Linked DNA regions of Homo sapiens. The protein of the gene in region 1 purifies or fractionates together with the protein of each later gene. This does not show direct contact. Each region holds a gene or a part of one and is shown on either strand. Other genes may lie near its edges.

Region 1 (3,500 bases):
TATCCAGTCAGACTCCTCCACAATGACCCACTTCTTTATCAAACCTAGCATAGAAAATAAACAGGTTGAGGCTGGGCACGGTGCCTCAACATACCTGTAATCCCAGCACTTTGGGAGACTGAGGCAGATGGATCACCTGAGGCCAGGAGTTCAAGACCAGCCTGACCAACATGGTGAAACCCCATCTCTCTACTAAAAATACATAAAAATCAGCCAGGCATGGTGGTGGCCGCCTATAATCCCAGCTACTCAGGAAGCCGAGGCAGGAGAATCGCTTGAACCCAGGAGGCAGAGGTTGCAGTGAGCCAAGATCTGAGACTCCGTCTCAGAAAAAAAAAAAAAAAAAGAAAGAAAATACACAGGTTGAGCCCATTTCTTTGGATTTTCACTTCCTTATGAAGGCTCCTGTATCATGTAAAACTTACACTAAATTATACTTTTCTCTCTTCTGCCTTTTGTTATAGGAACCTCAGCCATGAACCTAAGATGGGAAGAAAGATAGTTTTCACCTCCTACATTGGCAGTGGGGCCTGAAGATCCGAGGGATGTCTGGGCTTGTCCCAGCGATGTGTGTGAACAGGATACAGAGGCAGGGGTGGGAAGCCAGAGGCATGAACAATCAGCCTGTACCTGCCTGCCACCACCCCCTCCCCAGGGAGGGCCAAGCTCCCAAGAGTCAGATCAACCCTAATTCAGCACTGCATTTCCAGGGTTCAATATATATGACCTCCACAAATGACACAATGGTGACTACAAATACATAAAAATGTACACTCAGACAGGGGTAAAAACTGCAGAGAAGGTAAGAAATTAACAGGCACACCAGGCGCAGTGGCTTATGCCTGTAATCCCAGCACTTTGGGAGGCCGAGGCAGGTGGATCACAAGGTCAGGAGATCAAGACCATCCTAACATGGTGAAACCCCGTCTCTACTAAAAATACGAAAAATTAGCTGGTGTGGTGGCGGGTGCCTGTAGTCCCAGCTACTCGGGAGGCTGAGGCAGGAGAATGGCGTGAACCTGGGAGGCGGAGCTTGCAGTGAGCCGAGATCGCGCCACTGCACTACAGCCTGGGTGACAGAGCGAGACTCCCTCTCAAAACAAACAAACAAAATTAACAGGCACAAGGGTCTTGAATGGCTGTTGTTGCTGGAAAGGTGCCTATGAAGCAAGGTTTCAGAAAGAACCAGAAGGGAGAAGCCTAGTCCAAGGCCACCTCACCCCAGGTCCACCTATCACTCTGAGGCCTGGTCCCCCTCTGTAAATGGGACAACACCCCTCCTGCCTTCTGCTCAGCACTGCTGTGAGGACACACGAGGGTGTGCAGGGCAGCACTTCTCTATTATAATTACATGGATAATCCACACGCTTCATAACATGTGGATTTGTATTCTGCTTTTCTCCCTTTCTCTGCCATAAGTGTTGCTCCAAGTGTGAAAAGCATTTTTCAAGATTCAAAGCACATCCCAATACAAAGCCCTTTTACATTAAAGATAATGGACACGTGGAGTAAGGGAACTCTGCCTGTTGTTCACCTGCCTCGGTCTCCTCACTTGCACCACGGGGCAAGAGGCAGCACTGGTGAGATCAGGCAGCCAGCCCTCCTGATTCTTCACCCTGTTTGAGACAGTCGGGGTCCACTCTGAGTCTCCCCTGTCTGTGTCAGTGATAGGGCTAGGCTGGTTGAATTCTGGGACTCTCTCCATCCCAGCTCCCCCAGGACGGGCTGTGACCCAGAGGGCATTCTGCTGCCTCAGCCGAAACTGGGACACTGGGAGCAAACTGCCCCCCTACCTTGGGAGGGTAGAGCTCATCAGGCACAGGAAGCCTGGAGTCACATCTTCTCCCAGGAGAATGCCCATCCTGCAGAGTGGGCTGGGTGGGGACCGGCTCCAGGGGAGGCTGGCCCACCGCCTCTCCATGTGGTGGGGCTGAGCCAGGGCTCTGTATGTGACCTCAGCCTCCGTTTCCCTGATGTGCAGAGTTCGGCTTTGACTCAGGGGCACAGGTATCTCTGGGGGTGAGGAAGGGACCCCGTGGAGTGTTAATTTTCCCACCCACCCCCGCCAGGTGTCAATGTCGATGACATTAAGGTTCATGCTGTTGGGGCTCAGGTGGATCCAAGGACAGGTGGCTGGGAGCAGGCCAGATCAGGAAGGTGGAGGAAGGCATCACAGCCAGTCCCTCCTGCTTCTGAGCCTCAGTGGCCCCATCTATCACATGGGGGCAGGGGTGGTAAACAGACAGCCCAGTGGCCACCAACTCAGGCTGACACACCCAGACAGAGGGAACGAATGAATTACACCACAGACTCCAGGGCCCCCCAGGAGGACTTTCACTCAGATGCCCAGGTCGGGGGAAGGAATGGGCATTTTGTTTTAAAGTTCCCCAGGGTTCTGTGCTCTGGACACGGTGTGGTACAGGGTGGGCAGACTGAGGCAGGCGAGGTGTTCTAAGGAGTGGAGGCTGAGGTTCAAGTGGAACGGGTAAGCACAGGTGCTAGGCCGAGTTCCCCAGCACAGGCCACGCAGGGCATGCAGCCCCACTTCCAAGGAGTCGGTAGGCCTGGGTGGGAAAGCTCCCCTCAGCACAGCAGCCACAGCCATAAAGGCCCAGAGGCGGGCATCACCTGGAAAGTGGGAAATCACATCCAGTCAAAACACGCTTCTACTTCAGCTGCAGAACAGCCCGGGTGCCCACCCGGGTGGCAGGACCTTCACTAGGCTGACTCACCAGGGGACCTGGTGGCTGCTCTCAGGACGCTGGGAGGGTGGGCAGGACAGCCGGGTTTGGGTGATAGGCAGTGAGCTCTGCCCTCTTAGGAAGCTGAGTGCACCAGACCCAAGCTGCTGGAAATGACCGAGGGAAGGTCTACTCAACCCTCTGAGCCTCTGCTTCATCCCTGTAAGACACGGGCTAACTCCTACCTGACAGGGGTTATGATATTAGATGACGTATTGTTTACAAGTCCCGCTTGGCCCTGCCTAGCCCAGCACCGCATGCAGGAGGGATCAGAGGTCCAGAGGGACAAGGGCCTCCAGAAGACAGAAGAGCGGGGCTGGGGCTGCACAGGAGCTGCAGCTATGCACCAGGGCTTCCCCAATCCCACAGAACCCTTAGCGGGAGAGCCTGGACTGGGGCTTGCAGAGCTCCTGTCTACAGCAGTGACAGGGAGAGGCTGGTTGAATTCTGAGACCCGGGGGCCTTGGCAGAGGCCGGGCACATGTACTGACCCTGAGGGGCAAACGTCTCTGTTGTCTCTGAGGCCCGGCAAGCTGGGGTGGCCTGCAGTGAGGGGTGACCAGGAGTGGAAGGTCAGTGTGCGTGTGGGTGCCGTTGGGGAGCTGGCCTGGCCTGTGCTCAGGGCTCAGCTCCCAGGCCTCATGGTCCTCCGATGGGGAAGAGGGGGCCTCTGCTTCCTGCTCGGGGAAGACAAGCCTGAAACGCCAGGGGGAGAGCTCTCAGGTAAGAAGACAAGGTTGGAGGATCACAGACTGGCAA
Region 2 (2,420 bases), on another chromosome or scaffold:
AATAGTAATCTAATCTAGTTGTGATTTGGGTTTGCTTTGGTATTGACATTTCCTAGAGAGCTCCAACAGATACAGATAAAAGCTGAGCTGCTGCGGTTAAATCTGGGGATGTGGTGATGGGGGCCCTGTATCCCTCGAGACTGTCCCTGAGACCTGTAGCTCTAGAATCTAGTCCTCATGACCTCAGACGTTCCTCCAAAAGTAAACTGTGTGTGAACTTGTGCTCCCTTGAGAAGCTGCCTTTAGGAAGGGTTTCAATTCTTTTAATATTTTATCAAGTTTAGTCCTCTTCTACATTTTTTTTTTAAGTTTTGCAAATTTTCATGGAGTTTTTTAAAGCTTTCATTGTTATTTCTCTGTTAACAACTACCACTATGAAAACTTGATTTTCTATTGAGTTTGGGTTTTTTTTTTTTTTTTTCAGACGGAGTTTCACTCTTGTTGCCCAGGCTGGAGTGCAATGGCGTGATGTCAACTCACCACAACCTCTGCCTCCTGGGTTCGAGCGTTTCTCCTGACTCAGCCTCCCAAGTAGCTGGGATTACAGGCATGCGCCATCACACCTGACTAATTTTGTGTTTTTAGTAGAGACAGGGTTTCTCCATGTTGGCCAAGCAGGTCTCGAACTACCAACCTCAGGGGATCCGCCCGCCTCGGCCTCCCAAAGTGCTGGGATTACAGGCATGAGCCATCGCACCTGGCCAGTTTTTTTTTTTTTTTTTTTTTCTAAGTGCAATGGGAAGCCACTCAAAGGGCTTTAAGCAGGGAAGTGACATTATCTGATTTTCGTTTTATAAAGATCCCTGCGGCTGCCGTCAGTGATTGTAGGAGGGCAGGAGTGGATGCAAGGACAGCAGACATTAGTGCAGGAGTTCAGGTGAAAGATGATAATAGCTTGGGCAGAGTGGTAGCAGTGGACATGGAGGGAGGTAGACAGATTTAAGATGTCTCGGAGACAGCTGATGGAATTTGCTGATAACTGGAATGGGAGTGACAATGACAAATAAAGGAACCTAGAATAAGCCCCAGAATTTTGCTTAAGCAACTGAGAGTTCAGCCATGGCAGATCTGTTAAGCACAAAAGTTAAACACAAATACAAATTCATACTGCATTGGACTCTTTTAAGCAGTGTCTTATAGAAAAAACATTTTATCTAGGGAAAAATGCAACAACAAAAACCACTGAAAACAAAAGCCTATGAATAAAAGCAGACCCGTTTTAGACTGGATGCACAAAACAAAAACACACAGGATTCTTGTGGTGGCGATGGGAGTAAGTGAAGACGTAACAGGTTGCAAGTTATTTTAAGGACTAAGACCCAATGTTCAGAAACCAAATCTTGTTCTTCCAGTGTGGATGCTTAGTCAAAGACTGTAAATTGTCTTCAAGCTGAGAGAGACCATGAAGAGAGAGGAGTGGCCACCTAACTAACCTTCCCAGTTTTTGGGAGCCAAACCTAGACCAGAATGTAGGTCTAAGTGACTCCCAATCCAGAGCTGTCTCCATTAGGCCAGGCTCTCACCCCAGCTCCAAACCAACTTCTAAAAACTTGTCCAAGAGTCCTCCTCTTCTTTAGAATTGGTAATCTTGGCAATTAAATTCAGCGTAGAAACACTCTCCTGAACATAATCAGCATGCTGGTTCTTCCTTTTCTGTTGCCTTGCTCTTCCTAACAGCTCCTCCTTTCGTCTTTGCAGGCTGCTTCTCTGTCACAGGAACTCAGGGCTCAGTGCTGTACTTCATCTCCAAAGTGTCCCTAAAGCGCCCATCTGATCCCATGGCTAACTACTCCCCAAATTTTCTCCTGGACTGACCTTACTGAATTTAGATTTGTACATCCAATACCTGCTTAACATATCCACTTTGATGCTCAGTGGGCACCTCACACTTGATCTGTCAAACACTGAATTTCTGTCTCTGTTATGCACATACCCAAACTTTCCCCACCATGTATTTCCCCATCTCAATAAACTGCAATAGCTCAAGCCAAAAGCCTAAGATTCAGACCTGAATTCTTTCCTTTCCTCTCTCTCAAATGCAATTCAACAATTTTCTTACCTTTTATTTTTTGTTTTGGAATGAAGGCACATATAACTGAGCTAGTAATAATGCTTGATTCATAATACACCACCGATGTTCCATGCATAACTCTCTTATTCATTTGTCCATGCATTTATTTTGTTTTTGAATTTTTTTAAAGGGGGGCAAGGTCTACGTTGCCCAGGTTGGAATATAGTAGCTATTCACAGGTGAAATCATAGCACACTATAGCCTTGAACTGGCCTCAAGGATCTTCCTATCTCAGACTCCCAAGTAGCTGGGACTATAAGCACGCACCACTACACCCAGCTCATGTACTTACTTTTAATGACAAATGAACCACCCCAAAACCCACCACCTAACCCAGGGACTAAAACAT

What was found. Proteins that work in one complex are often made in the same cells at the same time.
Region 2: the proteins of KIAA0930 (region 1) and RAB3IP purify together in Homo sapiens (affinity purification with mass spectrometry, with the first as the bait; one large-scale study listed by BioGRID). This does not show direct contact.

Annotation. Positions count from the first base shown.
Region 1 is NC_000022.11:45,230,895-45,234,394, forward strand, and holds part of KIAA0930 (uncharacterized protein KIAA0930), read right to left. Parts: intron 1-3,500.
Region 2 is NC_000012.12:69,818,860-69,821,279, reverse strand, and holds part of RAB3IP (rab-3A-interacting protein isoform alpha 1), read right to left. Parts: 3' UTR 1-2,420. UniProt on the Homo sapiens protein: Guanine nucleotide exchange factor (GEF) which may activate RAB8A and RAB8B. Promotes the exchange of GDP to GTP, converting inactive GDP-bound Rab proteins into their active GTP-bound form.